Homo sapiens: one gene and its partners. The protein of the gene in region 7 purifies or fractionates together with the protein of the main gene of each other region. This does not show direct contact. Each region holds a gene or a part of one and is shown on either strand. Other genes may lie near its edges. The genes, in order: HDAC2, SIN3A, SAP130, BRMS1L, BBX, MIER1 and ARID4A.

What was found.
Region 1: the proteins of ARID4A (region 7) and HDAC2 purify together in Homo sapiens (affinity purification with mass spectrometry; 2 studies listed by BioGRID and IntAct, with this or other methods). This does not show direct contact.
Region 2: the proteins of ARID4A (region 7) and SIN3A purify together in Homo sapiens (affinity purification with western blotting; 6 studies listed by BioGRID and IntAct, with this or other methods). This does not show direct contact.
Region 3: the proteins of ARID4A (region 7) and SAP130 purify together in Homo sapiens (affinity purification with mass spectrometry; one large-scale study listed by BioGRID and IntAct). This does not show direct contact.
Region 4: the proteins of ARID4A (region 7) and BRMS1L purify together in Homo sapiens (affinity purification with mass spectrometry; one large-scale study listed by BioGRID and IntAct). This does not show direct contact.
Region 5: the proteins of ARID4A (region 7) and BBX purify together in Homo sapiens (affinity purification with mass spectrometry; one large-scale study listed by BioGRID and IntAct). This does not show direct contact.
Region 6: the proteins of ARID4A (region 7) and MIER1 fractionate together in Homo sapiens (co-fractionation; one large-scale study listed by BioGRID). This does not show direct contact.

The regions. Positions count from the first base shown.
Region 1 is NC_000006.12:113,943,649-113,948,101, reverse strand, and holds part of HDAC2 (histone deacetylase 2), read left to right. Parts: intron 1-1,953; coding exon 1,954-2,094; intron 2,095-2,631; coding exon 2,632-2,740; intron 2,741-3,691; coding exon 3,692-3,822; intron 3,823-4,453. UniProt on the Homo sapiens protein: Histone deacetylase that catalyzes the deacetylation of lysine residues on the N-terminal part of the core histones (H2A, H2B, H3 and H4).
Region 2 is NC_000015.10:75,409,899-75,414,351, reverse strand, and holds part of SIN3A (paired amphipathic helix protein Sin3a), read left to right. Parts: intron 1-40; coding exon 41-147; intron 148-1,306; coding exon 1,307-1,589; intron 1,590-2,608; coding exon 2,609-2,860; intron 2,861-4,065; coding exon 4,066-4,218; intron 4,219-4,360; coding exon 4,361-4,453. UniProt on the Homo sapiens protein: Acts as a transcriptional repressor. Corepressor for REST. Interacts with MXI1 to repress MYC responsive genes and antagonize MYC oncogenic activities. Also interacts with MXD1-MAX heterodimers to repress transcription by tethering SIN3A to DNA.
Region 3 is NC_000002.12:128,010,107-128,014,559, forward strand, and holds part of SAP130 (histone deacetylase complex subunit SAP130), read right to left. Parts: intron 3,049-4,453; coding exon 2,924-3,048; intron 288-2,923; coding exon 163-287; intron 1-162. UniProt on the Homo sapiens protein: Acts as a transcriptional repressor. May function in the assembly and/or enzymatic activity of the mSin3A corepressor complex or in mediating interactions between the complex and other regulatory complexes.
Region 4 is NC_000014.9:35,860,489-35,864,941, forward strand, and holds part of BRMS1L (breast cancer metastasis-suppressor 1-like protein), read left to right. Parts: intron 1-2,101; coding exon 2,102-2,198; intron 2,199-3,381; coding exon 3,382-3,465; intron 3,466-4,446; coding exon 4,447-4,453. UniProt on the Homo sapiens protein: Involved in the histone deacetylase (HDAC1)-dependent transcriptional repression activity. When overexpressed in lung cancer cell line that lacks p53/TP53 expression, inhibits cell growth.
Region 5 is NC_000003.12:107,808,812-107,812,703, forward strand, and holds the end of BBX (HMG box transcription factor BBX), read left to right. Parts: 3' UTR 1-2,528; downstream 2,529-3,892. UniProt on the Homo sapiens protein: Transcription factor that is necessary for cell cycle progression from G1 to S phase.
Region 6 is NC_000001.11:66,959,074-66,963,526, forward strand, and holds part of MIER1 (mesoderm induction early response protein 1), read left to right. Parts: intron 1-605; coding exon 606-670; intron 671-4,014; coding exon 4,015-4,087; intron 4,088-4,453. UniProt on the Homo sapiens protein: Transcriptional repressor regulating the expression of a number of genes including SP1 target genes. Probably functions through recruitment of HDAC1 a histone deacetylase involved in chromatin silencing.
Region 7 is NC_000014.9:58,356,813-58,361,265, forward strand, and holds part of ARID4A (AT-rich interactive domain-containing protein 4A), read left to right. Parts: intron 1-2,319; coding exon 2,320-2,404; intron 2,405-4,088; coding exon 4,089-4,230; coding exon of another isoform or gene 4,231-4,290; intron 4,291-4,453.

The DNA of each region.
Region 1 (4,453 bases), on a different chromosome or scaffold from region 7:
ACCATTCTGGAATGAACTTCTAGGGTGTAAGAATAAATCTGAAATTTTATTTAATAAGATATTATAATGTATATGTAGATTAGAAATGATTTTTATCATGAGTGTTTGTGTATGATTTTAGAGGTTTTTTTCCACGTGAACTTTTAGGTAGCAAGTTGACAGTGTGCTTTGTATTCTCTAAGATGTGGAGAATTCTCAAATAGAACTTTCTCCAGAACAATTGCTGGTCTTAATGGAATTGGATAACTAAATACAGATATTAAAAGCTTCTTTATTTAATGTTATGATTGCTACTATACCAGCTATATTAGAATTATGGTATAATCTGTTATTCTATGTTAAGTGGAATGATATTAAATTAATTGTCCCTTTGTAGGTCAACAGTGGTTGAACCGCAGTTTCATATTGTAACTTAATGTGTTAATAACCATCTTTTGCCTCAAAATGTTTATAAACTTTCTAAAATGATCTACCTAATGTACTCTTAAAAGTGTATATTAACTATCAGTTTTCCTCTTTGACTTGAAAGTCCTTAATGTTTTTGTACTTAATATTTTTTATAATCATAAACTGCAGCAGTTCACTCTTAGAAAAAAATTTACTTTGTATTTCAGCTAATAGAGTTTCAGTTGCATAAAGCGTGTAAGGATATTTGTAATTCCAAGTCTTAAACTTCATTCTGAGTTTCTCTGCTGCCAGCTTTGATTCAGCTTTTTCAGATCTGCTGAAGTTAGTTATCTCTTTTCCATCTCCTTGCTGCCATCAGCTATGTTCTTCCTCTTGTATTGTCTCCCATTCTTCATTTTTACAAATTTTGGCCTTTAAAAAAATCCCTTTCGAGTCATTTTTGTCAAGTTTTGGGATGAAGGAAAAGTAAACATCTTTGTTTAGCCAGCTATCTTTACTTGGAAGCCTGTAAGTTAACTTTTAGTATGTTTGTTTTTTCTTTAAAAATATCCAAATGGTTTTTATCTGTTAAAAGAAACTTTTCTAGTAGCAATAATAAAAATTGAGTGCTAGAATTATGTAAATCACATGTTGCAACTATTGAAGAATGCTTAATGAAAATTCCCACAGTATACAGTTACATGAAGAGAACAGATAAACTTTGTAAAATTAACTCTGAAATGGAAGGAAATATAGAAAAACGATTTTTGAATAATGTCATTTTTAGGTGGTTAGTTTTTTCATTGTCCCTTTTTAATTTTTTCCCAAATACTCTTCAGTATGCACAAATGTCTTTTGTAATTGAAGGATTTTCTTTTCTTCTTTAAAGATTGAGTTATGTGCCTAACTGGTAATATTCCGAGAAGGGAACTTACTGGAAACTTATAAATGTTTATTGAATTATGACATTTATCCACATAAAATATTTACTTTTATGTTAGGTTTACTATTAATATTAAATTTCTACACGTAGAAGTTGAAGTTTTTGAAAATTAATAGATGTTTTTAACTCTTAAGTTAGGAAAACTACTCAGTACCACTACCTAAAGTTAACTCAGGGTTAAACTATGTTGTTTAGCTTTCCATAATTATTTTACACATGTCCATAGGGAAAGAAAAGTCAATAAAAATTAATTTAGATGATACATAATGTTTTATTGTAACATGATGAATTTCACCATGTAACCCTACATGAACATCTTTCTGTGTTAATAAAATAGGTGTATATTCATATTATAATCTTAATATAGTTGTGTACTTGACTTTTCCATCAGGGACACCTGCTAAAATAGCTAGTTATATCTTAATTTTTTAATATGTATTATTGTATAACGTGTTTGGAAAGGAGTTTTAGACTTGACATTTTTTACATTTTTATTTGTTTTTAAAATATTTAGAAAACCCATTTTGGTTGAGTAACATTTGCACTTATTATCTTTTTAAAATTTATTTTTCGAACTGTTGCAGTATGCAGATTTTGTTGTTACCCAAATCTTCTTGTCTTAGGTCATGCTAAATGTGTAGAAGTTGTAAAAACTTTTAACTTACCATTACTGATGCTTGGAGGAGGTGGCTACACAATCCGTAATGTTGCTCGATGTTGGACATATGAGACTGCAGTTGCCCTTGATTGTGAGATTCCCAATGGTAAGTGTTCTCATTACAATATCTTTATTGTATGAACTGTCAATACAGATGCTCCTCTAATTATGTTGCAATTAGGTCCTGATAAACCCATCATAAGTTGAAAGTATGATAAGTAGAAAATGGATATAATACACTTAACCTACCAAACATGACTTAGCCCAGCCTACTTTAAACGTGCTCAGAACAGTTAGGTTAGGCTTCAGTTGGACAAAATAATCTAATACTGAGCCTGTTTTATAAAAATAAAACGTTGAATATTTCATGTAATGTACTGAATACAAGACATTGAAGTTGGTACAAAAAAGCCAGAAAACTGTAAGTCAAGCCATTGAAAGTCAGAGACTGTCTGTATATAGAAATAGATGGATGAATGATTAGAGTAAGTGCCATTCTTTATAAATAGGAGAACATTCACTTTGTGTTCACTTTTAAACATTTTCTTAGGAAATATTTCACCACCTAAATCTGGATTCTGTGCATGGTTTTTTGTGAAAACTGAGCTTGTAATATGTAACTTTATTTTATTGTTTTCATTAGAGTTGCCATATAATGATTACTTTGAGTATTTTGGACCAGACTTCAAACTGCATATTAGTCCTTCAAACATGACAAACCAGAACACTCCAGAATATATGGAAAAGATAAAGTAAGAAATCATTGAATTGTTTTGATAAACATTTTATCTTGACAAAGATTTAGTATGCTTTAAAGGGCCAAGTATGATGGGTCTTTTTAACTTTATTAGATATTTTGTTTTTTTCTAAAGGATTTGAAACATTAAGTTACTGATTATTCTTTTTTTTTTTTTTTAATTTTTAATTTTTTTGTCAGGATGGGATATTGCTTGGTTGCCCAGGCTGGTCTCGAACTCCTGGCTTCAAGTGATCCTGTCACCTCTGCCTCTCAGAAGTGCTGAGCTTACAGGCATGAGCCACCGTATTCAGCCATTTAATTTCTTCAGTTAATGGAAATAATTTTTTTTATTAGTTGAAATGTATTTTAAAATTGCAAGGTGCACTATAAGTTATTTTCATTGTCTGGAACATTTTGTTAAGGCTTTGTCTCCACAAGCAAAGTAGAGACATTATAGTACATAGCATGGGTTTGAGTCACCTCTGTACCACAAACAAGCTGTATGATGTTTGATAAGTTCACTTGCCTTTGTGCTTATGTTTTCTCATCATTGAAATGGCAGGCTAAAATAATGCCTCCTTGGCCAGTCAAGGTGGCTTATGCTTGTAATCCTAATGCTTTGGAAGTCCGAGGTGGGAGGATAGCTTTAGACCAGTAGTTTGTGACCAGCCTGGGCCATATAGTGAGACCTTGTCTGCAAAAAATTTAAAAATTAGCCGGGCATGGTGGCATACACTTGTAGTCCTAACGCGCAGAGGCTGAGGCAGGAGGATTGCCAGGAGTTTGAGGCTGCAGTGAGCTATGATCTTGCCACTGCACTCTAGTCTGGGCAACAAAGAGAGACCTTTTAATATATAGGTTTAGCTAGACCAAAGATGAAATTTTTTGCTAAATATTTTCTCTTGCATGTAAGAACTGCAAAGAAATTTAATTTTGTCTAATAAACTTTGCATGTGTAATTTAGACAGCGTTTGTTTGAAAATTTGCGCATGTTACCTCATGCACCTGGTGTCCAGATGCAAGCTATTCCAGAAGATGCTGTTCATGAAGACAGTGGAGATGAAGATGGAGAAGATCCAGACAAGAGAATTTCTAGTAAGATAATGCCTTTATTTTTCCAATTTGTCAAAATGATAATTGAAATGGAAGGTTTTAGTGGCCTAAGAACTTCACTATAAAGTCATGTTCACGAGCACACTGTTAATATTGTCATTTTTGCCACTTTCAGAGATTTAGCTTCCTGATGTCTCAGAACCTGATTTGGGTGTCAGCAGTTTCAGTTTGTATGGCTGGATATACATATATGATTGAAAGTTTTCAAAAATTAGCAACTTTAGTATATTTGGAAATTAATAAGACATCTCATTTATCTAAAGTAGGGTGAACTAAATAACTAAACATCTGTTTGATTTTACAACTTCTCATTACACTTAATGTGATGGTTAGATTGTAGCATAACAGTATGTGTAATGGTATAGACTGTCTAACATATTTGGTATTGGTACTTTTTTTTTGGTCTACTTCACCTCTCAGCTCTGAAATAAAATGCTACTTTTTAAGTAATGACATTATTCCCATCCCCTATTAGAAAAACACACTTTTTTCCTTTAGAGTTTCAGCATTTTTAAAGAAAAAGAGATTCCCCCAATTTTTATTATGTGTTTTTGAGCCATTTCTTCATACATGAAAGCAAAGTTTTCAATATTAAATAAACCATTCATTCCAT
Region 2 (4,453 bases), on a different chromosome or scaffold from region 7:
TACTTTCTTTTTATAACCTTGATATTTATCCCTGCCTCAGGTGGAGGATGCGCTATCTTATCTTGACCAGGTGAAGCTGCAGTTTGGTAGTCAGCCTCAGGTCTACAATGATTTCCTTGACATCATGAAGGAATTTAAATCTCAGAGGTAAAAGATGTGTGATTGTACTCAAGCTTTGTATCTGGCATATTGATTTTGGAAGGAAGAGGATATAGTTTATTTACTGGAAGATAAAGGATGCTCCTTTTTGCAGCTGAATTTTCAAAATCATGCCTTTATTTTATGCATACCTTTATTGATGGAAATTATGGCCACTAGACTTTTTTATCCCTATTGGTAAATTTTCCTTAACTAAATTTTTTCCAGTGTTTTGTCTCAATCAGGGAAGTAGCACTGGTAGTGATTTAGGCTACTTGGTTTCTGAATTGGTTTAGATACCCTTATATTCTGGCATGGTTCACTGTTGTAAGAGTGTAACTCATCTGAACAATGTAGATGTGTGCTGAAATGATGTATACTGGTATATCAAAGAGTGAATCTTGTTTGGGATATGTAGCTTTATATATATCATCTGAGTATCTGCTTGGTAGAATTATTACAATGAACATATATTCTGTTAAAAATTTTGACCATTCCAAAAATTAGCCGGGCATGGTGGCGGGTGCCTGTAATCCCAGCTACTTGGGAGGCTGAGGCAGGAGAATTGCTTGAACCCAGGAGGCGGAGGCTGCAGTGTGCCGAGATTGTGCTACTGCACTCCAGCCTGGGCAACAGAATGAGACTCTGTCTCAAAAAAAAAAAAAACAAATTGTGGCCAAGTATCTTTGAGTCTAAAACTAAATGGCTTTGGAATTTCAGAGTTCGTGTGTTAATTTTAAAATGCGTAGATGATCTGTTTTCCTGTTTAGAGAAAACCTAGTAGAAAGTGAAATTTTGAGTGAGGTGGCTCATGCCTGTAATCCCAGCACTTTGGGAGGCCAAGGTGGGCGGATCACCTGAGGTCAGGAGTTCGAGACCAGCCTGGCCAACATGGTGAAACCCCACCTGTCCTAAAAATACAAAAATTAGCCGGGTATGGTGGCGCATGCCTGTAATCCCAGCTACTTGGGAGGCTGAGGCAGGAGAATCACTTGAACTCGGGAGGTGGAGGTTGCAGTGAGCCAAGACCCCAAGATTGCACCATTGCAGTCCAGCCTGGGCAACAGAGTGAGACTCCGTCTCAAAAGAAAAAAAAACATGAAATTTTTTCTTAACAGGGTGTTTGTTAAGCTTACAGTTTATCACTTTTCTTTTTGTTTTTTATCAGCATCGACACCCCAGGAGTGATTAGTCGTGTGTCCCAGCTATTCAAAGGCCACCCCGATCTGATAATGGGATTCAACACCTTCTTGCCCCCTGGCTACAAAATTGAGGTGCAAACCAATGACATGGTGAATGTGACAACTCCTGGCCAGGTTCATCAGATTCCCACCCATGGCATCCAGCCACAGCCTCAACCACCACCCCAACATCCTTCCCAGCCTTCAGCCCAGTCAGCCCCAGCTCCTGCCCAGCCAGCTCCTCAGCCCCCACCTGCCAAAGTCAGCAAGGTGAGCACTTGGAAAATATTGCATCAATATGAATGCATCCCTAGAGAGCACCTTCCTTTGATGTTTCCCCTTTATATAAGACTTAGATACTGAGAAACAAAGTTACAAAGATTTCGTCATAGAAAAATGCTGTATGAAAACTTCACTATGACATGGTTCACATTTACACATCACTTACTTAGGTATCTATTTAAATCAACACAGCAACAACTTTCAAGGTCTTTCTTTTTACAGTTTCTGCTTATAAAACCATGAACATCCCAACAGGTGGTGACTTTGTGTAGTAGTAGTTGACAGCACAGATAGAAACCATCGTCTTATCCTGGTCAAATTGTGCTGCTGCCCACATGGTTATTTTATGAAAGTTATTTCACTAACTAGATTATATCAAGCTAAGTAGAAGATCTAATGAATAGTGATAGTGATGGTGATGAAGATGGGGTGTTCTTGGTCTAGAACCACACTGTCTGACACAGTAGCCACTAGCCACATAGGACTATTTAAATTAAATTCAGTTTTTCATTTGCACTAGCTTTCAAGTGCTCAGTAACCTCATGTGGCTGGTGGCTATGTATAAGACAGTGCAAATAAAGGACATTTCCATCATCTCAGTTCTACAGGACAGAGTTGGCGTAGAAGACTTTTTTATGTGGAGCTACTGCAACAGTTGTCTTGTTGTTGACATCAAAAGGCTATGTAGAATGAGATTTTTTCTATGTGTACTTGTTGAGCTACTAAGCTAAAACATTGCATATGAAAAATTCTTCCCTGTAATTGGAGATGGCTCCAGTTTTAAGGTTTTATTTAGAAAATGTGAGACTGAAATATTTGTATCAGCATGTTTGAACCGCCTACAACTCCCACTGCTGCCCAGTATGATTTGTGTTGGACTAAAATGACCTGGCCTGAGTGAGTAAATAAAGGATATACGTTGACACCTTGTTTCTCTTTAGTTTGAACTTTCCTTGTATCAACTCATCTATGCATCTGAAGAGAATAAAGATTTCTTTTCTTTCTAGCCCTCCCAACTGCAAGCACATACTCCGGCCAGTCAGCAGACTCCCCCACTTCCACCGTATGCATCCCCACGTTCTCCGCCGGTCCAGCCTCACACACCAGTGACAATCTCGTTGGGAACGGCCCCATCCTTGCAGAACAATCAACCTGTGGAGTTTAATCATGCCATCAACTATGTTAATAAGATCAAGAACAGATTTCAGGGCCAACCAGACATCTACAAAGCATTCCTGGAGATTTTGCACACATATCAGGTAAGGAGTGCCCATTCAGCCTGTCTTAACCAGGTCACCCTCTTAGGGCATCTAGTCCAATAACAAGTAACCATTATTGTGTCCATTAATTCATACTGGAAATTAACCAGTTAGAAACTATCATGCATGTTTTTAAAGCCAGTTTGTTTGTTTGTTTGTTTTTCGAGACGGAGTCTTGCACTGTCACCCAGGCTGGAGTGTAGTGGCACGATCTCAGCTCACTGCAGTCTCCGCCTCCCGGGCTCAAGTGATACTCCTGCCTTAGCCTCCCTAGTAGCTGGGATTACAGGCTCCGCCCACCACGCCCAGCTAATTTTTTGTATTGTTAGTAGAAATGGGATTTCACTATGTTGGCTAGGCTGGTCTCGAACTCCTGACCTTGTGATCTGCCCACCTTGGCCTCCCAAAGTGCTGGGATTGCAGGCGTGAGCCACCGCCCCCATGCTATAAAGCCAGTTTTATTTGCCTGACTTGATTGCCCTGCAACATTCAGTCAGGATTTTTTTTTTTTTTTTTGAGACAGAGTTTTGCTCTTTTTGCCTAGGCTGGAGTGCAATAGTGCAGTGTCGGCTCACTGCAGCCTCTACCTCCCGGGTTCAAGTGATTTCTTGTATTTTTAGTAGAGACGGGGTTTCAACATGTTGGCCAGGCTGGTCTCAGGTGATCCACCCGCCATGGCCTCCCAAAGTGCTGGGATTGCAGGCATGAGCCACCGTGCCCGGCCTCAGTCAGGATTGTTAGTCACTGTCCCATGAAATGAAACTCAGTTTTATCTGGGACAGTTAGATGGTGATTTATATAGTCTAGTTAATGTACAGTAGGAGGAGGAGAAATTTCTAAGGTTTTGTCAGTTGGTAGTGGTCCCCTGGGCATTAATATTTATTGCCCTAGGCCGGGCATGGTGTCTCACGCCTGTAATCCCAGTACTTTGGGAGGCCGAGACAAGTGCACTCCAGCCTGAGCAACAAGAGTGAAACTCCGTCTCAAAAATATTTACTACCCTAGTTTTGAAAGGAATTGTCATCCACCATCTTCAACTTTTTTTTTTTCTCAACTTGAAAGTCTGTGGTCAGAACGGGTGCTAAGAACATAGACTTTCTTCTTACATGCAGCCTAAATAGATAACAGTGATTCCAGAAAGCGTGCAAAGATGAGTGACTCAAAACAGTAGCCCAAATGATCTCTTTTCATTTGCAATTCCTCAGAAAGAGCAGAGAAATGCCAAGGAAGCTGGAGGAAACTACACTCCAGCATTGACAGAGCAGGAGGTGTATGCCCAGGTTGCTCGTCTCTTTAAAAACCAGGAAGATTTGTTGTCAGAGTTTGGACAATTCCTACCAGATGCCAACAGCTCCGTGGTATGTTTTTTTAATAAGAATTACACTATTTACTATTATTATCTTAGATGAGTTGGAAAACTGTGCTCAGAAGGGGACTTTTCCTAGATGATATTTGTTTGCTTTGATAAGAGCATTAATCTCATTCATGTGTCTTAATCAGCTTTTAAGCAAAACAACTGCTGAGAAGGTTGATTCTGTGAGAAATGATCATGGAGGCACTGTCAAGAAGCCCCAACTGAACAACAAGCCGCAG
Region 3 (4,453 bases), on a different chromosome or scaffold from region 7:
TCTTTGTTCACAGCTTTAGCCCCAGGATTTAGAACACTACATAGCTCATTATAAAAAAAAAAAGCCACTCAATAAATATTTACTTAAATGAAGGAACGAAAGAAAAAAGAGTGAAGGAGGAGGATGGCAGGAAGGTTCAAACTTCATACTCCCCATGTATACCTAAGTGCTGAATCAGTAGCATGCGCCGCTGTCGTAGTGATGACTGGAGACTGAGCTCTGGTGGCTGAGACAGTTGCTACCACAGCAGGAGGGATGGCATTGGAGGTGGTCACAGGTGGCCGAGACTACCAAAAGAGAAAAAACAGTTCATTTAAAACAAAAATAAAATAGAGGAAGTCAAATACTAAATGTGTAATTTGAAACTTGAGCCTACAGATAAGCATGTTTCTGCCCAAGTAAAAATAAATTCTCACCATTCCAATTAAGGAATTCTCTTTTCAGATAGGTTGTTATAAGACCAAGAGCCAGGCCGGGCACGGTGGCTCACGCCTGTAATTCCCAGCACTTTGGGAGGCTGAGGTGGGCAGATCAACTGAGATCAGGAGTTAAAAGACCAGCCTGGCTAACACAGTAAAACCCTGTCTTGACTAAAAATACAAAAAAAATTAGCCGGGTGTGGTGGCACGCGCCTGTAATCCCAGCTACTCAGGAGGTTGAGGCAGGAGAATCGCTTGAACCTGGGAGGCAGAGGTTGCAGTGAGCCAAGACCGCACCATTGCGCTCCAGCTTGAGCAACAAGAGAGAAACTGTCTTGAAAAAATAGAAAAGAAAAAAAAAAAAGACTAAGAGTCAGAATTATTAAAAAAAAAAAATCCCTTAAGATACCACTGACAAGTGTTTTGAAAAAAAAAAAAAAATCCCATTTTGATTGAACAGTACATGAGTCCCTCCTGTACAAATGTGATTGGAGTCAAAATTCTGCCCTACTATTGGTACCAATGGGATCTCACCCTTCAATCTAGAGTTGCCACAGGTCTGTTGTTGGTCCTGGTGTAGACATTTTACGCTGCCATCCAACCCAGCACCTCCACAGAGGGCCTACTCAGCTGCTGAATAGAGCTGTTGGCTCTCAGGCCATCTACGTTAGTGAGTACAAGGGCAACTCAAGGTAACAGTATTCTTTTCTAGGTAATCGTTCAGGGTGCCCATATCCTTTCTGGATGTTTTCACATGGACAGAGTGCCCTTATCACACTTACGTGTGAAATCTTCCTCTAAAAAATAAGCTCCACACTGGGCTTCATCCACATACCCACCATTATTCTTCGAATCACCTGAGTTCTGATTCTTCCCTTGCTCTTAACCCTGAAACATGCATCTAAATGGCCGAGCTCTGCCCATTCCTCATCCTTGCTTTTCATCTACAGCCCTTTTACCTGCCGCTTCTACCATGTGCAGGTGCGTGTCTCACACTAGGGCTACAGCACCAGCTTCCTCACTCGGGAGCTCCTTGTCTTGGTTCTCGTCTTCCTCCAACCCTTCATATGTATCACATATACTACTAGAGGCCTAATACTCCTCCGACTCTGTTTTCTTGGCCAGAAAAGTATTTATCTTGAAAGCTGTAGGCTAGACAGATACTACCCAGTATCATAATCAAGACTTCCTTATTATCTTAAACCCAGTTGTTTCATACATCTGTCTGTCCCCTGAAAGTGCTTAAGGGGACAGACCTCCTGTATGTGATTCAGCTAGATTAATCTTATCTTTCTTATTTTTTGTGAGATGGAGTCTCACTCTCTCGTCCCAGCTAGAGTGCAGTGGCACGATCTTGGCTCACTGCAACCTCTGCCTCTCGGACTCAAGTGATTCTCCCACCTCAGCCTCCCAGGTAGCTGGGATTACAGGCACGCACCACCATGCCCAGCTAATTTTTTGGCATTTTAGTAGAGACAGGGTTTCACCATGTTGCCCAAGGCGGTTTCAAACTCCTGATCTCAGACAATCCGCCCGCCTTGGCCTCCCAAAATGCTGGGAATTACAGGTGTGAGCCACTGCGCCTGGCCTAATCTCATCTTTCAACAGTATTACTTTAATGATACACAGAGCCATTGTGTTAAAAAGACAAAAATGATTTTTGGCCGGGCACAGTAGCTCACGCCTGTAATCCTAGCACTTCAGGAGGCCGAGGCAGGCAGATCACTTGAGGTCAGGAGTTCGAGACCAGCCTGGCCAACAGGGTGAAATCCTGTCTCTACTAAAAGTATAAAAATTAGCCGGGCATGGTGGTGCACACCTGTAGTCCCAAGTACTTGGAAGGCTGAGGCAGGAGAATCGCTTGAACCCAGGAAGCAGAGGTTGCAGTGAGCTGGGATCGCACCACTGCACTTCAGCCTGGGCAACAGAGTGAGACTGTCTCAAAAAACAAAAACAAATAAACAAAAAAACGCAGTGGCTCTCTACTGTATATAAAGTCTAGTTTATACTCCATATCCTAGAGAACCCAATTTATAGATACTATATTTCCTGCAAATATATTATACTTCAGTAATAATGAGGTCATAGATTTCCTTAAGAAAAAGCTGAATGGCATGGACCATGTTCTTGGAATATACATAGATATACACCTAACTTTTAGGAGTCCACAGATCCCCCCAATCCAAATTAAAATCCCTCAATCCTAGCTAGCCTTTACTAACTGCTGTCTACAACCATCACTCCCTTCCTTGCCACTGTTCATTTCCCCCTTCACTTCCTCTTCACTTCTCTGATTCCTCGTTAGCACAGCCTTTCCAACAGGAAGGCTTCCCACCATCTCTCCTCTGCATTCTTACAGCTTGCCACATGACACTGTGCATCTTTCAAACTTCCCTATGTCTTGGCAACTAGATGGAAAGTCCCTGAGGTCAAGGATGTGCCTAGTGCCTGGCAGAATGAATAACTCCAATGAGGCCCTTAATGCACCCCAGGCTCCGACGTGCCTGGATTGGTTGGTGAATGATGTGCTGTACTGCTGGCTGAGCAGTAGCAGCATTTGGCAGCTGTGAGGTCGGCCTCAGGACTGTGGTTACTTTAGAACTGGACATCACAGCAGCAGCAGCTGCACCTGAAAAAAAAAAAGTGTTTATTATATTTATTCTAGTTATATTCCCTGGGAAAATAATCAGTATGTTTCCCAAAACTCAGATAGCATGTCAATATCGAGCTGAAGTATGGTATGTATACTTCCCATTTCATCACAGAGAAAACAAAGAAAATGTGTATTCAAGAGATTTAATAATAATTTATATTGCCTCTTCACAGACAACCTTAAGTGAAACTAGCTGCTGTTTTTTGTTTCTGTTAACTGCAAGTGTGCACAGTGGTAAAGCACACAGGGAACAGCAGTGTGATGCCACTGCCTCAGCTCTGACGAGGCTCGGACACTTTGCCTTCCAGTCTTTGTTCCATTAGAGCAGACGTCGACATTGCCAAAGGGACACATTATGAACCTTAACCTTAAACCTAACCCTGCACTTTTCACCCTGCAGACCCCCATAAGGGCCTGTGAACCACATTTGGAGAACTGCTGAGTTATGCTATAACCAAGCAAACCTGGTCTTGCGTTTGCTAACTTGATTTTGCCAACAATCTCCAATTGTTGTAAAGTCTCCAATAAAAGGTAAAAATTTCTAGTCAAAATTCATTTATTACCTCACAACCTATTAGAACTTAAGGGTAAAAATAAATTAATCTTAGCCATGTGGTGGCTCACACCTGTAGTCCCAGCCACTCAGGAGGCTAAAGTGGGAAGATCGCTTGTGCCCCAGAAATCTGAAACCAGCCTGGGTAACCCAGTGAGGCCCCATCTCAAAAAATAATTATCATCATCATTTTATTGTTACATAAGTTAAAAAACTGAGTAAAGATCATCACTGAACTTTAAAAATATTCAGTATTAATATTTGTGACTTATGTATTAAAAATAAAGACCATGTTGCAGATAAGCAGTCTAATAATAAAGACCATGTTGAGATTATCAAAGCTTGGGCAGTTCCTCAATATATAGGACAATTTTAGACCATATTAAACACTTTAATTGCATAAATATACACACTTGTAATACAACTATAATAAGCACATATTAAACCATGCTAAAAACATGGATTGCTCTAAGTTTATTTCTACTGTCTTGCGATTTTTTTTCTTTTTCTTGAGACAGGTTCTCGCTCTGTCACCCAGGCTGGAGTGCAGCGGCGCAATCTCAACTCATTTCAACCTCTGCCTCCCGAGCTCAAGCCATCCTCCCATCTCAGCCTCCTGAGTGCCATCCTCCCATCTCAGCCTCCTGAGTGCCATCCTCCTATCTCAGCCTCCTGAGTGCCATCCTCCCATCTCAGCCTCCTGAGTGCCATCCTCCCATCTCAGCCTCCTGAGTAGATGGGACTACAGACGCATGCCACCACACCTGGCTAATTTTTTGTATTTTTGTAGAGACAGGGTTTCGCCATGTTGCCCAGGCTGGTCTCAAA
Region 4 (4,453 bases), about 22 Mb from region 7:
AAGTCACCTTTGTCATTTCCGCATAGCCAGAGTCTGTTTCTAAGTTTTAAAATTCTACTCTGCATTTTTTTTATTCCAGTGCAGTATGCTTAAAAAAAAAAAAAAAAAACTATTGTAGCGTTTTAATGGGTCACTCTCTGATAATAGCCTATGAAAATCTTCCAGGGCTCCAGTCCTGATAGAAGTTGAGAATTGTGAGGTATGTTAAGTCAGGGAACTGCCAAAGAGGAGTTGGTTCTGAATACAGGTCAGTGTGAGGTCGGTACAATAATGGAAGCTTGGGGCCACTTTCCTGGGGCTTTTTAAAGCTCTCCTGATGAGAAACAGCATAGGCGTCAGCCTGGGAAAGGGGTTATTAGTGAGCAGGATCAGTAAGTCTAGATGTGAAGACTAGAGGGATGTGGGATCTTGAGACCAAACCTATACTTATGAGTAGTATTTTTTTAAAAACCAAAGTAACTATTGAACATAGAAAACTCCACAGCCACCAAAGCAAGAGAGTTAGCCCCCTTCTTTTCCAGGTATCTTCTAGCTGTTCCATTAGGGCTTCATTTTCCATTCAGGGGAGGTTTTTGAGTGTCTTGAGAAGCTGGAGAAAAGGGAGAGAACTTTCCAAGAAAAAGAAAGAGAAATAAGAATGAGAATGGATTCATGGCAGTTTAAAGTATACTTCTGATATTTTTAGAGATGCCTTCAATGCTTCAAACATTTCAGTTTCATTGTGGCTTTTTAAAAAATAATAAAGAATGATTAGTGGATTTTTAAAAGAATTTCTGCTTGGCCTAATTTGTCAATAGGAAGAAAAGAGAATACACCAATTAAATGTTCATATCCTTAACAGCAAAAGGCTTATCACTCCAGCTCTGTATTTAGAGTCATCTTTGGTTGGGGAGATTGGATCTATTTATAGCTGCTACCACGGTCTTGTGGAGGGGAACTGCTCTCCCTTTTTCTCTGATATTTTCCGAGTTTTGCAGCACAATATAGATAAAGCTGGAATATTTCATAAGACTTTACTAAAGGCAAGGGAACAAGCAAAAGGAAGTAAGCAGAGAGAACAGCATGCAATGAAACCATGTTTGATATGAAATCTAGTTTTAGTTTTCAGCTTTGCTTTCTCCTTAGCACCTGGCTTGCCTCAAGTTTGTAAGCCATCTTTTCCCTGACACTCAGGAAACCCTTCAAGCATGTATAATTTCTAAATTTCAGACTCAAGAGAGAGGGCTTCATGATTGACACCAGGAATGCAGCCTACATGGGTGTGGCCTGTGTTTTCTACATGTAGTCATATCCAACTATATCCCAATAGCTTCCGCAAGACAGTCATATCTGCTATATCCAATTATCTAATATCCTTCACTAGAGGTAAACATGTGGCCATAGGTTTTTTTGTGTAATTGATCTTTATATATTATGTACATTTTATGGCTTTTTAAATTAGGGCTACAGTATTATATAATTAAAAACATGGACTAGAGCTAGTAGACCTGGGTTCTAGTCTATTTGCCAGTCTTGTATGTTGTAGCAATTCAATCTGTCTATGGTTTTGTAGAAAGATTTGGATATGATTAGTCTGTAATTTTATAATTTAGACTATAATTGAATTATTTTAAATAATCATAAAATTTGTACTTGAATCTTTCTCTTTGCCTATTTTAATATGATGCTGAGATATTAGTGAGGCATAATGACCCAATTATTATTCCTGTGAGAAAATATGATCCATTTTATAATGATATACTTTATAGGATAAGTTTTCCATGATGGTGACAGATGGGACCTACTTAAATTTAAAAGGGGCCATAGGGGTTTGCTATGAGTTTTTTATAAAGTAAATATTTACCTCTAAATGTACATCAGACATAATTTAGATGCTCTTATACAGAATGTAATTGCATGTAGTTAAATCTATATATAGATTCTATATTTTCTAGTTTTATTTCTTTCATGTATTTGACATTTCTTCTTTAGAATTTTTAATTGAATTGAAAAAGCAAACCAAAGCATCATATATTAAAGTACTTTAAGTTATTTGGTACTCTTAGTTAAGATACACCAATTTTTTTCTTTCTACTTAAGTATAATCTGTTTTTCTCCCCAGAGCGAAAAGCTGTTGCTATATGATACAGTCCAGAGTGAACTAGAGGAGAAGATAAGAAGGCTTGAAGAGGATAGGCACAGCATTGATATTACCTCAGGTAAGGAGAATGATATGATTGTGATGTTTGAGTGGCACCAGACCTTTGGTTTACTGTAGTGTCATATCGTATCTCAGTCTTCTAATATTAATATTATGTAAATGAAATGTCCCAGCAAAGGAGAAAAGGGGAAGAACTCTAAAGTGATGGTGATTATATTGTTATTGTTATTTGAATTCACACTTTAGAAAGATGTAAAAAATGGAGCACACGACAAGGGACGAAACAGAAGTATGACAGGAACCTACTGGCAGAATAGTGTCAGGGCTGGATGTGGTGCTGCACATCTATATCTACAGTCCCAGCTATGCAGGAGACTGAGGCGGAAGCATCCTTTGATCCCAGGAGTTCGAGATTGCAATTGCAGTGAGCCATGATGGCGCCACTGCACTCCAGACTGGGCAATCTTGTCTCCAAAAAAAAAAAGAATAGTATTGGAAATTAGCTATAGTATATGTTTTTCCTTGTAAGTCTTGAAAGACTGTTATGTGGAAGAAGGAATGAAAACCTTTTTGACATCATACAAGGTAGGACAAACTGATAGAAGTTATAGGGAGGTAGATTTTTGTTTCAGAAAAAGGAATAACTTATTAATGATTAGATCAGTCCAGTGTGAAATTGGCTTTTTCAGGGTGTTACAGAAAGGTTTTTTGCATTGAGTGGAAGGTCTACTAGGTTATCCTACAGTTCTTGAGTATATATTACTTTATCTGTTATAAAGTTTAGTTCTCTATAGGGTAGGCATGGTGGAGTCAGATAAGCTGAGCTCTAGTGCCAGTGCTCCCTCACCTACTAGTCTGGTGACCATGGACAGTTACTTCACTTTTCTAAATCAATCTCCTTGTCTGTAAAAGGAAAGTAATAAGAATACCTACCTCAGTGGTAGCTTTGGGGATTAGGTGAGACAATGCATGTAATATACATTTTACAAAGTGCATGACAATATGGTAATCAGTTCTTAGTCATGAAGTGCCAAATTGATTTTTGCTTTAATAAAGGCAGAGCAAAACTTAAACACGTAGTGCTCATGAAATTATGTACAGCTTAATCTATATATACCCAGCTGCCAATGAAGTTTTTTACGTTTTTACATGTAACTAAATAGCCACCATAAAATTAGAGTCTTTTTTCCTCCTTTGTTCACCAGAAACCCACTAATACTTAATCTTTATTTACCTGCCAGAGCTGTGGAATGATGAGCTTCAGTCAAGAAAAAAGAGGAAGGATCCTTTCAGTCCTGACAAAAAGAAGCCAGTTGTTGTTTCAGATATCCTTTTCCAAATTTTCTGTTTTTTTTTCCTTGATGTGCGTTTTTCCATTGTGCATGCCTTTATAACTTTTATTTGTAAACACTGACTTTATTTGCATGATCCTGTAATAAGCAAAAGATGATTTATTTATAAAACCGATTGAAGACAGAGGATATAGTGTATACTTTAGGTCAGGAGAGGTGGCAGAGGAGAAGAAATTCAATCATGATCTCAACTTTGAAAATTAATGTGACTTGTCGTTCACCAAGGGCTTTGATGTGAAACAGTCGTTTAGTATACAGTATGATTGTTTAATTCTCATGTGTACTTTTTTTTTCTTTTTGAGACAGGGTCTCACTGTGCCACCTAGGCTGGAGTGCAGTGGCACAATCATGGCTCACCTTAGCCTCAACCTCTCGGGCTCAGGTGATCCTCCCACCTTAGCCTCCCAAGTAGCTGGGACTACAGGCACGTGCCACTCGCCTGGCTAATTTTTGTATTTTTTGTAGAGATGGGGTTTTGCCGTGTTGCCCAGGCTGGTCTTGAACTCCTGGGCTTAAGCCTGCATTGGCCTCCCAAAGTGCTAGGATTGCAGGCATGAGCCACTGTGCCTAGCCTCGTATACTTTTTAAAAACATTTTTAAATGTTTCCAAAATTGGAGTGTAAATTAATACGTATATTCAGTTTCGGCATTCTCTATGGTACCATCCCTCTACCCCCATCTTTTCCCCTCCACCTTAAAAACCAGTGATTGTGTTAGTGATGTATATTACAATCAATGATATCATGGAATTAAGGGCATGTAGTTATGACATCAGAAGTACTAGACTGTATTTATGCTGGTACTAAGTGGTTTGAAGAATAATTTGAAGTCAGAATTTAGGATGCCAAAGCATTATGCTCATAAATCATCGTTCCATTTTCTGAAATGTAGTACTTTGGAAATATAATTCAAAGTGTGATATTCTTACAGCTAAATTGACCTTGACTATTCAACGTCCATA
Region 5 (3,892 bases), on a different chromosome or scaffold from region 7:
TTTTTCCCACAAATATCAGAAATATATTTATTTAATTCTGTCAGATGAGCTTTCTACCGATGCCATGTCCCAAAGCCATGTTAAAATAATTCCCACGTTATCATTGTGATTCTACTTCCTGCCACTAAAATTGCTGGAGAAACAAAATAATGATGGAACACTATGAACAAAAAGGAGCATCTGAACTGGTCTGGTTATTTAGAATCCAATGTGTTCAAATCCTTTTGTTTTCTTATTAAGTCAGATGCTACTGTAAGTCAGATAAAATTTTGTTTGCACTCTGCAGTCTTTGGCTCAATGTATGGAAATGTTTGCACCTATGTAAAGTCACAAGCTAATTACAAATTGCTACAGAACAGGAGTAAGCTGAAAACTGAATGCCATGTTTTGTTTATAAGGTGGGGAGGGGAGGGAAAATACCAAAAAACTCTGTTCCAAGTTTGGCATTTGACATTAATGTGAAGCAGTGGGACCATGCTGCCTGCTAAACTACTGTATGAATCGTAAATGTTCTGAAGACGAGCAGCTGGAGGCTGGAGGATGGCATTCCATACAGCAAAGGAGAAGCACCCACCACTTCATCTGGGAAAAGGAAGGAAATTGCAGGAGGCCTGGAGCCATCATTTGTAAAGGGGATGTTGCGGGGTGTGATGCTGTTGAGGAGATTCACCTTCAATTGCACTGCTCCACAGAGCCCTCATATAAGGCCAATCCTAATGGGCTACCTCGGCTTTAAAAGTTAATTTCAGTAAGTCCTGTTTCAAAAGTTTGTCTTTTTTTGCTTCTACCTTCAGTGCCACTATTTTCCACTGCAGTGTTTTGACTTCACAAACTGCCTCCTCCAGAGAGAACAATGTATTGCTGAAAATGGGCAGTAGAAGCAAATGCTGTTGTTACATTTGACCTATAAAGTATTCAGAGTGACTGCTAGGTAGAAATTAAAACTTAGCTTTCCCAAATAGCTCCTTATTTTGCACCTTATAAAAAGTATACTAATTGTTAATTAGATGTTGCTTTTGTTTATACAAGCATTCCCAAAGAACTAGATTTGGATTTTGTTTTGAGTTTTTGGATTTTTAAAAATTATCTTATTTAGATTGACTAACAGCATACTTACAATTTTAAAAGAAGCTGTTGTTCAGTTCATCTTACCAGATGTGTCTGGCGAAGTATTCAGGGTTTGATGGACTGCTTTACTTTCGTTTGGAAGTGATAGCTAAGTTTATTATACTCTATATTAAACAACTTTGTTCATTTCACTGAGGACCTTATCTTCCTTATATTTCAGAACAAAGAAGCAACAAGCGTGAATAAAAAGACAAATGTATTTGACTCCCTCATAATCCCCATCTGTATGTGCTACCCTTCCTTCAAATATATAAATGTGCATCTTTTTTTTAAAAAAAAAAAAAAAAAAGGTTCCTCTTCTGGCCAAATTTGATCTATGGTGGTATGATTCATACTGTTAAATTGAGAGAGGAAACCTTGTGGTTAAAAATTATATGGCTGCTGTTTTCTTTTTGCAGTCAGTGGTCAAAACTGATCATGTGCTTAAATCGATTTTTATGCACAGAACTAGTTATTGTGAACATTACTGCTCCCTCCAAAGATTTCCTGATAACTTGGGCCAGAGGTGGTTACTGAGTAACAAGGATCTAATTCAATGCCTCAAAACTCTTCCACCCACAATGCAAATCTTACCTCACAAGCTCTAACCTAAATCACAGAGACATGCATGTTTCATGCATTAACACTGATTTCGCTCTGTGGCCCACCAGAGGGGTGGGCTCATGTCCCCTGACTCCTCACATGAGTGCCTCAGCTCTAAGAGCCGTGGAACGGGGGGTAGGGAAGGTTTGCGATCTGGAGCTCAGCAACTGGCTCAGCAACGTTTTCTCCATTTCATTAGCACTAAACAAGTCTCTTGCTCTCAGGAATTTGTCAGAAAAAAGAATAAAATCACCTGAGACTCCACATACCAGATTATAAACTCTTCTCGTAGGTTTGAATTGCTTACTCACATGTCATAAATTAACCACAGCTTCATTTGACCACCAGGTCTAAAGTCTGTTGACAGTTTCAGCATGACTGAATCGCTCATTTTTTTTTTTTGCTTTCAGAAATTGGCTTGGTTCTCTTTAGAGTTGGTGTAAACATGCCATGTAATAAATGATTTCCACTTAATGGTACAACAGAATTATTGCTTTCTTAGATGTATGTGTAGTAAAAGTCAATATACACATTTATATAATTTCTTTCTTCAAAATCTTATACCTAATTTGATATTTCTAAAAATTGCACATGTAAGTCATGTGTATAACATGCTAAAGTACTTTAACTGTGATCTTAAAACTGAATAAAAATATTTAATAAAACTTTGAAATATTTTAAAGATATTATTCAAATATATTTCTTTATGTTCACACTACTGGCCGTAGAGTATGTGCCTTTAATGTACCATTTTCACTAAAAACAGTAGGAAAAATACTAATAAAAGTAAGATATTTCAACTATTTTAGAACATCGAATGATGTGTCCCCCTAAACTGTGTTTGCCTGTGATTTGCCATTGTCTGGACAGCCTTGGTTGCTTTTCCCAAAAGTGTAGAGTGATGATCAGCCCAATAGAAGAAGAGGATATGCTTCAGTACGCCACTTGGGTGAACGCTTCTGGGGTGCGCTTCTGGGACTAGTGATCAGAACACACCATCTTTCCCTGAACTGGGACAAAACTGTGGAAGCGATTTCATTAAGAGTGTTACCTAAGTATAAACTCGCACCTCAGATTTGGTGAATACAATGTTCCTAAGTTGTTTTTTTTAATCCTTTGGAAACTACACGCATGCATGCACACAGTATTAATTATCAACAAATAGACTTTGTATTCAGACAGTTCTTCTACCCATGTACCATTGGGTTTTTTTTAACCTCCCTAATTCAGATTTATTGATAGTGATGATACCTCCTCATACCATTGCTGTGGTGAAGAAAAGAGAGTATATATGAAAATATTGTCATAGGGCCTGTAGCATAAATGCCCATTAAATGGTAATTATTGATTGTATTGTTTTAATTCCAACTGTAAGGTTAGCATTTTTTTAAGTACATTCAAAAGATATGATGAGTATAACTATTCAAGATAAACTTTGATGCTGTAGAGATAAGCTGTTGCAGGAGATTTGATGGTATGGAAAACTCAGAATAGGTAAAAATTTGCACCCATTAACTCATAACTTTTATATGTAGCACTATGTAAGATTTTTCTATAAAATTAGCCTGTCTAATGAATTATACGAGATATTCCAGCACACCTCCTTTCCATTGCTGAGAATAAGATTGTGTGTGTGTGAGGGAGAGAGAGAGAGAACATGGGGTCCATACCAAAGATTAAAATTCTGTTAGGAAAAAAGTGACAGGATATACATAAGTGTAGTTTTATGGTCCTGTGTGTATTACACAATTGCACCGATCCTTTTGAATAGAACATAAAACCTATTGCAAGGAAAAATTAAGTGATTCTAATCAACAGTCAGCTAAAACATACTACTGACTCCATTCCATACATATTTTAAAAGGATTTATACTAAAGATAAAATTATGAATCATAATTTATCATAAACCTTTTTACCTTTTTGAAATTATAGGAATTTTCAAATACAGTATATGCAGAAGTAGAGAGGTATTTTGAACCCCATATACACATAATCTAGCTTCAACAAATAACATTTTCCCACTCTGGTTTTATCTGTGTCTGTTTTTTCCCTTTTACGTACCCCAGAAGATATGCATATCCCAGAAACATTTCATCTGAGAAAATTATCAGAGAAGCCTTTAAAAGTGAATCTTTTGGTACTCACAGATTTTAATTTTTTAAATATTTTCTCCTCATGATT
Region 6 (4,453 bases), on a different chromosome or scaffold from region 7:
CATTTAGTCTGAAATTCTTTTCAACAGTAAATGGATTTTGTTGTAAGTTATTAGTTTAGCAATGCAGGGTCCCTGTTGTTAGTGAATATACTATGGTAATTGTGTCATGTACTACTTGACTTTGGGTGTATTTGTTTTTTCTTTGCCCTGTTTTTAAATGTTTGTTTCATGGTCATCTTTTTGTTTCTCATAGTCTTTCCCTTAGTTTCCATTTTTTACTTTCTTTGCCTCTTAGCCTTTTTTAGGTATATTCATAAATACACCTAAATTTCTCTACTTTAAAAGGAAGAAAAACACTTGAAGAAAAATAAACTGTCATGAAATATGTAGTAAGATAATATTATCTTTATTCTAAATCAGTTTTTTCCCCTAAGTTTTTATAGGAAATCATTTCATGAGAATACAATTATGTAGAAAGTTTATGGTTTTTTTGGTTTTGTTTTTTTAAGTGATAGGGTGTTAATTATTTGGTTAGAAATATCTTGGCTTAATTCATTAGATATCTTTGAGCATATCCAAATATTTGATGGTAGATGTAAAAATAATATGTAGATTTAGACAGGATAAGCAGTCATTTTATAGTATTGGTGTCTTATTTATTCTAGATAGTGAAGTAGAAGAAGAATCTGAAGAAGATGAAGATTATATTCCATCAGAAGACTGGAAAAAGGTAGTTAGAACAATATTTTCCCAAAATTTAGATAAATTAATATTTTTTTAAAAAGCCTCGTGTAATTATTTTTTTTTTTACTAACTATGTATATTGATAAAATCGATGTAAGCCCTTTTATGACATTTAAATGTTTGGTAAATGTTCAGATTCCTTCTTAACACATCTAGGTTAGATTAGAAATCTACATTTCTGGCGGGGTGTGGTGGCTCACGCCTGTTATCCCAGCACTTGGGAGGCTGAGGCAGGCGGATCGCTTGAGCCCAGGAGTTCGAGACCAGCCTGGGCAGCGTTGCGGGACCCTGTCTCATTTTATAAAACAAAACAAAAAATAAATAAAACAGAAATCCACATTTCTGATTTAGTCCTGAACTAGTGCCAAATTAGGCATTTGTTGCCCTGTAAAAAGTATCACGTATATGTTTTTCAATATTATGGAAAGCATTTGTGGAGGCTTTGATATTTGTTAAGTAAATTTTGTTTAGTAGTTCATATTGCAAGTTTTTCATTCTGTATTACTTTATAAAAGAAAAACTCTCCAAATGATTGAATTTAATGTTGACATTTACAACTGATAAGCTTATTATATGAAGAAACAGATTTGGCTTCTTCGTAACTATATACAATTAATTTCTGAAATGAATCTAAAGATAATATATTGAGATTAGTTTTTAATTATAAAATTATATAGCATATAATTAATCATACAGTTAAGTTAAAGAATTGTAAGTTATTGTAAAAGAACTGAGCTCTTAGGAAAAATCTATCTAAACATTATGTAGAATTAGCTGGTTGCAGTGATGTTTCCCCTGTTGTCCCAGCTACTTGGGAGGCTGAGGTAGGGAGAATCACTTCAGCCCAGGAGTTTGAGACCAGGCTGGGCAACATAGTGAGACCCCATGTCTTCAAAAAAATTTTTTATGTAGAACTGGTTAAAACAAAGAAATAATGTTATTTTTGTTGAGAGACAAGGTTAGCCCAGTTTACGGTATGTGTTAATTTGAGCAAATGATGGGACTCGACAGAAAACAAGAATCACAAAAGTTAATTTGTGTGGCCTATTTGGGCAAGGGTTCTTTCATCCTGTTTTTAATCTGATTCCTACAGTGTGCAGAAATTAAGATGAAAAAAGCTAGAAACCTTGGGAGTCCTTATAAATTGCTGTCCCACTTCATATTCAAGTTTATGTATCTTCAACATGTGTTGTTTTTTAATCTGGAGTGTTCAGTAGAGTATTTGATTAAGCATTCAGTGTTTTTTTTTTAAATGAAAGAACAAAAGCTCAGAGGTAGAACACCTCTCATTGCTGGAGGGTATTAATTACCCACACCTTACTCAGAAAGGGTATTAATTAACCACACCTTTCTCAGAAAAAAATTATGTAATAAAGCAGGCCAGAGTAAATGCAGATTGTTTTCTTTCAGTATGATTTTGTTGTTTTAAATAATTGTCAAGGTTCAGAGATTCATTTTTTTTTAAGACTTATAAGATGAAATTGAGTTTTTATAGAAACTTAAGGTAGGGGAAACAGTTTTGAAGTCAAACCTGAATTTTAGTTGTAGCTCTAGAACTTAGTAATTGTGTGCTCCTGAGAAAATCAAATTTTTGAGCTTCATCTTCTTACATATAGTATGGGAATAACAATGTCAGCCTTATGGGGCTTGCTGAAAGATTAAAGGAAAATTGCATATATGATATGTTAACACATAATGATCTTCAAAGCTATTTCCCTTCCCTTCCCTGTACTACCGAACAAATTAACAGATGAAAAGAAATGTTCAGAACTGAACAGGAAAAAGGAAGTACCTATCTTTAAACTAATCCAGATGTTCTCAACCCTGTTTTTATGTTAGAATCATTTGGATAACTTAGATGTACTGACTACCAGGGCCTTCATTCATAGATTCTAATTTAATTGTCCTGCAGTGGATCCAGGCATTGATGGTTTAGAAGCACCCCAGCCAGGGTTAGTAACTTGACAATGTTCTTTGGTAGGCCTAGGTGAGTTAAGTTAAAAGAGGCACAAGATGTGACAATAAAGGACTCTTTTTATAGTAGAAGACATAAAGAGAATTCCATTGTAAGGGTAGAGAAAATTTGTTGTAAGTTTGATTCTTTTTAGAAAACTGATCATGAGAAAGATTGGTTTTTCTTATGGGTATAGAAATAACTTTATTACATAAAGCACGTCTTTGAAGTTGTACTGGATAAAATGAGCTCCTCACATCAGTGAGGTAACAATAGCAGGAGAGAGACTTTCCAAATCCTAAGAGTTACCAAAACTTCTAGACCATGATTTTGTACCTTTCATGCCCAATTTTGAAAATGTCAGTAAATGTGTTCTTAACATTTAGCCATCACACAAAAGAGGGTTCATGTAATCTTGGTCTCCTTGCATTGTGAAATTTCACCAGTGGTAGTTTGCAGTTGCTTTTGAGAACATCCAGTTTCACCTAATCTGTGATTTGACTGTATAGATATGATTACTGGATTTCCTATTTAATTATATTTGTGGGAGGAGGTTACTTTTTCATTTTGTATTGTTTTAATGAAAGTCAAGCCATAACCTGCTTATCTATTTCATTTAGAGTTTCTTTCATTTGGCCCCTACTGAGCTTTATACAAACCCTTTTTGTTATTTTTCCTACTTTGAAGCTCTGTTTTTCAGACTTCAGTCTATGTCAGAATCACCTAGAGAGCTTGTTAAAATACCAATGACTGAGTCCTGTCCCCAGAGTTTCAGTAGGTTTGGGGTGGGACCTGAGCATTTGCATTTCTAACAGTTTCCCATTAGCTGTGTGTGGTGGCATGTGCCTGTAGTCCCAGCTACTCAGAGACTGAGGTGAGAGAATTGCTTGAGCCTGGGAGGTCGAGGCTGCAGTGAGCCATGATCACTCCAGCCTAGGTGACAGAGCAAGACCCTGTCTCAAAAAAACAAAAATTTCATAGATGACACTGATGCTGCTCATATAGGGATCATATTTAAGACCACTGTCTTAAGTGTAGATACTCTGAAAATATCTGAATTTGACTTTGTGTTTTACATGTTTTGCAGTTGTCTTACTAATGGAATTATCAGAATTCACTTCTTTGTCTCTATATTTTGAAATAAAGTTTGTATTTATTGTTTACGTTGCATTTCACCTCAGTATTATTACTAATATTTTCATCCAGTCATTATTTGTCATTCATCTTCACAAAGGTACCTCTGAGGTAGTTAATTGGTTGTTTTTGTATTTTATGACAGAGAAACCAGGAACAGTTTACTAAGATGGTAAGGCTAGAAAATGGATATAAAATCTGTTACTAGATCTTACTAATGTTTTATGTTATTTTTAAAATAGGAGATTATGGTGGGCTCCATGTTTCAAGCAGAAATTCCAGTTGGCATTTGTAGATACAAAGAAAATGAAAAAGGTGGGTTATTAGTAAAGTTACGTAGCTGAATTTATGCTTTCAGTGTAATGAACTGTTACTTTATATGTAAAATGTGATAAGAACATGACAGCCTACTAAGTAACCCCATTGTAACCCCATTGGTTTGTGAAAGAGGACCCTTCATTATTTCTGTGAGAAGAATGTGTGTACTCAATTTTTTCAGTTTGGTCTATAGAAGCCTAGCCAAAAAAGGAAAAAGTGAATGCTTTTTTTCATTTTAAAGTGACTTACAATGTCTCAACAGTTTTTTTTACTTTTTTCCCCGTATTTTCAGTGCTCTAAACTTTAACCCTTCTCTAATCTTTATAATTTAGTTTTTAGAAGTCCATTTTATATCAATGAAAG
Region 7 (4,453 bases):
TGCCTCAGCCTCCCAAGTAGCTGGGACTACAGACGCACGCCACCATGCCCAGCTAATTTTTGTATTTTTAGTAGAGACAGGGTTTCACCATGTTGGCCAGGATGGTCTCGATTTCTTGACCTTGTGATCGCCCGCCTCGGCCTCCCAAAGTGTTGGGATTACAGGCGTGAGCCACTGCGCCCGGCCTAAATTTGGATTTTTTTTCCTGGTCTAGCGATATGCAGTATGATACTCTCTCATCAGACTGTGCAGCCACAACAAACAGCTAAGAAATCATGAGACTAATCAACCAGTACTGTACAGTGTATTCAATAAATTACATGAGATATTTAAGACTTTATTATAGAATAGACTTTGTGTTAGTTGATTTTGCTCAACTCTAGGCTAATATGAGTGTTCTGAGCATGTTTAAGGTAGGCTAAGCTAAGCTGTGATGTTCAGTAGGCTAGATGTATTAAATGCATTTTTCGACAGGATATTTTCAATTTGTGATGAGTTTATCAGGACATAATGGCATCATAAGTAAAGGAGCATCTGTATAGGTAGTCATGGTACCATGTCAACTGAAATACATGCATAAAGGAACCATGTCCTTACTTTGTACATCTCCATGGTAACTGGCTTATAAAGCAAGAATATGGTTTCCAGATACATGAGTTTCTATTAATACGCTACAGTCTAAAACAAGTTTGTCCAACCTGTGGCCCACAAGCCATATGCAGCCCAGCATGGCCTGGAATGTGGCCCAACACAAATTCATAAACTTTCTTAAAACATGAGTTTTTTTTATTTTTTTGCATGGTTTTTTTTTTTTTTTTTAGCTCATCAGCTATCGTTAGTGTTATTTTATGTGTGGCCCAAGACAATTCTTCTTCCATTGTGGCCCAGAGAAGCCAAAAGATTGGACATTCCTGGTCTAAAGCAAGGACTGCCTGTTGTTTCTTTACTTAACTGTACATTTTTTAGATTTTGACTTAATTCTGTAAATACTTGTATATTTAGATAATGTAAAAACTGTTATTTAGTTCTAGAAACCTTAATTTCTTATTTGCCCCTGATTAGTCACTTGGACTATAGACAATCAAAAGTGATAGTAATCATTTGAGAAGGCCAGGTGCAATGGCTCATGCCTGTAATCCTAGCACTTTGGGAGGCTGAGGTGGGCAGATCACTTGAGCTCCGGAATTCAAGACCAGCCTGGGCAACATGGCAAAACCCGTCTCTATAAAAAATACAAAAATTAGCTTGGTGCAATGGTGTACATCCGTGGTCTCAGCTACTCAGGAGGCTGAGGTGGGAGGATCATCTGAGCCCAGGAGATCATGCCTCTGCACTCCATCCTGGGCAACAGAGTGAGACCCTCTCTAAAAAAATTGCCGGGTCCAGTGGCTCACCCCTATAATCCCAGCACTTTGGGAGACTGAGGTGAGCAGGTCACCTGAGGTCAGGAGTTCGAGACCAGCATGGCCAACATGGCGAAACCCCGTCTCTACGAAAAATAAAAAATTAGCGGGGTGTGGTGGCAGGCACCTGTAATCCCAGATATTGGGAGGCTGAGGCATGAGAATCACTTGAACCCAGGAGGCAGAGGTTCCATTGAGCCGAGATGGCACCACTGCATGTCAGCCTGGGTGACAACATTGAAACTAGCCCCCCAAAAATAAAAATAAAATTTAAAATAAATTTTAAAATAAATTTTTAAGTAAATGTTTAGGGGAAATGAGTTTTCAACTTAAGCTAAACAGAATAAACTTAGATAAAGTAGGTGAAATACAGATATCTCTAAAAAATTTCAGAATCCTAAAGGCAATGTAGTTCAGAAGATTTTATTGGAAATACTAGAGAGAGTGTTGAGGAGGAAAAGGAAGTTGAAATGGACTTGATAAAATAACTTGATAAAATAACCTGAAACTGATCACCTTGCAAATTTGAATTTATCTGACTTAGCTTTCTATTATTCATTCAATAGCACGAATTCTATTGCAGATCTGATTATAAGCTCAGGTCTGTAAAAGCTGTGGAAAACAAAACAGTTCAGATTGTCTTGAATCTAGAGTTTGCTTTCCAAGACTCTCCCTCTAAACCTGTTAACTCTTAAGAAATCCTCTTGCCTTTCCCTAGTGAGTATACAAAATACCTACTACAGTTACTGGCACATGTTACCAGCAAACCAGCCCCTGTGCCCTTCATATTCTTGCCAACACTAAGAACAAACTATTTAATCTGTCTCACTGTTGTTTTCGTTTGGTGAATACATTTCAAAAAGGTTATAATGTATAAAGTTTGTACAAACTCTTTTTTTTTTTTTTTTTTTTTAAGGTATGATGAGTGGGTGAAGGCTGACAGGATAATCTGGCCTTTGGACAAAGGTGGACCAAAGAAAAAACAGAAGAAAAAAGCTAAAGTATGTTTGTAGATTTATGTCCTTTATAATATGTATAGGAATTATCCAAATTGTATTGTGTGTTTTTTAAGACTTTAAGAACAGTTTTAGGTTTATACCAAGATTGAGAGCAAGGTATATAGACCTCCCATATACTCTCTGCCCCATGCATGCATAGCCTTCCCAGATTGTCAACATCCCCCACCAGAGTGGGATGTTTGTTACAACTGATGTGCCTACATTGACACATTATTGTCACTCAGAGTCCATCGTTTACATTAGGGTTCACTGTTGGTGTTGTATATTCTGTAGGTTTTGACAAATATATAATGACATGGATCCATCACTATAGTATCATACAGAGTAGCTTTACTGCCCTAAAAATCCTTTATGTTCTGCTTATTCTTACCCCCACCCCAGCCCCTGACAACTACAGACTTTTTCTCTCTCCATAGTTTTTGCCTTTTTGAGAATATCATATAATTGGAATCATACACCATATAGCCTTTTTAGATTGGCTTCTTTTGCTTAGTAATATGCATATACGATATTGTGTTTGTTTAATAAATCTTATTGTAATAATCATCTTGGCCGGGCATGGTGGCTCATGCCTGTAATGCCAGCACTTTGGGAGGCTGAGGCGGGCGGATCACGAGGTCAGGAGATCAAGACCATCCTGGCTAACACGGTGAAACCCCATCTCTACTAAATATAGAAAAAATTAGCCGGTCGTGGTGGCCGGCGCCTGTAGTCCCAGCTACTCGGGAGGCTGAGGCAGGAGAATGGCGTGAACCCAGGAGGCGGAGCTTGCAGTGAGCCAAGATCGCGCCACTGCGCTCCAGCCTGGGCGACAGAGCAAGACTCCGTCTCAAAAAAAAAAAAAAAAATCTTGATTCTTGACAGATAATTGTGATTTTCTCTTTATAACCCAGGAGCTTAAAACTAACACATTACCACATTGTTTCAGCAAAGGTGAAAACCAGCAACCCCTAGGGCATGACTTTCAAACTCAAATTCCTGTAGAGGCTTTATAGGAGAAGGATAAAGTAGGACGAACCGTGACAAACGAGAGGTCACATTCCTCATTTAGACGGAATGGAACTAACCACTCTGCTGTGGGAATGCAGACCCAGGGTTGCCAGATTTTAGGATTTTTCAAGACCACTATCTTTCTTAAAATGTGAAATTTGACTTTTAAATGCTAGAAGCCAATACTAAAATTTTAAAACACATATATACTGGCCAATTGTACCCTCACCCACATCCTCAGTTGTCAAGCTTTGCTGTAGAGATTTGCCCATTGTTTTGTCTACTGGATGATAGATATCTTTCCTTTCTGCAGGGGATAGTAGGGAACAGCGGGGAGTGCGGAATAGTTGTATAGTCTTCTAAAGCTCTAACTGACCATCACAATATAATTGCAGTATTACAAATTGTACAATATTGTATTTACATAAATACAAAATATGTTAGAAATTCAGCAGTGGAGGATTATATACCAATTTCCGTGACACTAATGTTAATAAGTTCTGATAACCTCTCAGACCAGCCAGAAAACTCTTCTTGATTCTTCTGTAAGCACAGACTAGGAAGTGACATATAAAATATCAAACCTTTTTTGAGATGTAGTTTTCTTTGGATAAGTAGAATGTTCATTTTTCGTAAAGCATTGGCCCTTCTCATACATTTTGTTGTTGTTGCCCAGAATAAAGAAGATAGTGAAAAGGACGAAAAGAGAGATGAGGAGAGGCAGAAGTCAAAACGGGGACGACCTCCTTTAAAATCAACCCTCTCATCAAACATGCCGTATGGCTTATCTAAGACAGCAAACAGTGAAGGAAAATCAGGTACCAGAAGTGCTCGCAGCAATATACCAGACAGCTCACCTCTGTCAAATGGAATGGAAGGTGCTCAATTTTGAGGATGGCTGACTTTAAAAAAAATCAATAACATAAATAATAAAACTTCCATTGTGTGAAATATTCACAGTACAGGTTGAGTATCCCTTGCCCAAAATGCTTGGGACTAGAAGTGTTTTTGGTTTTTGATTTTTTTTTTTTAATATTGCAT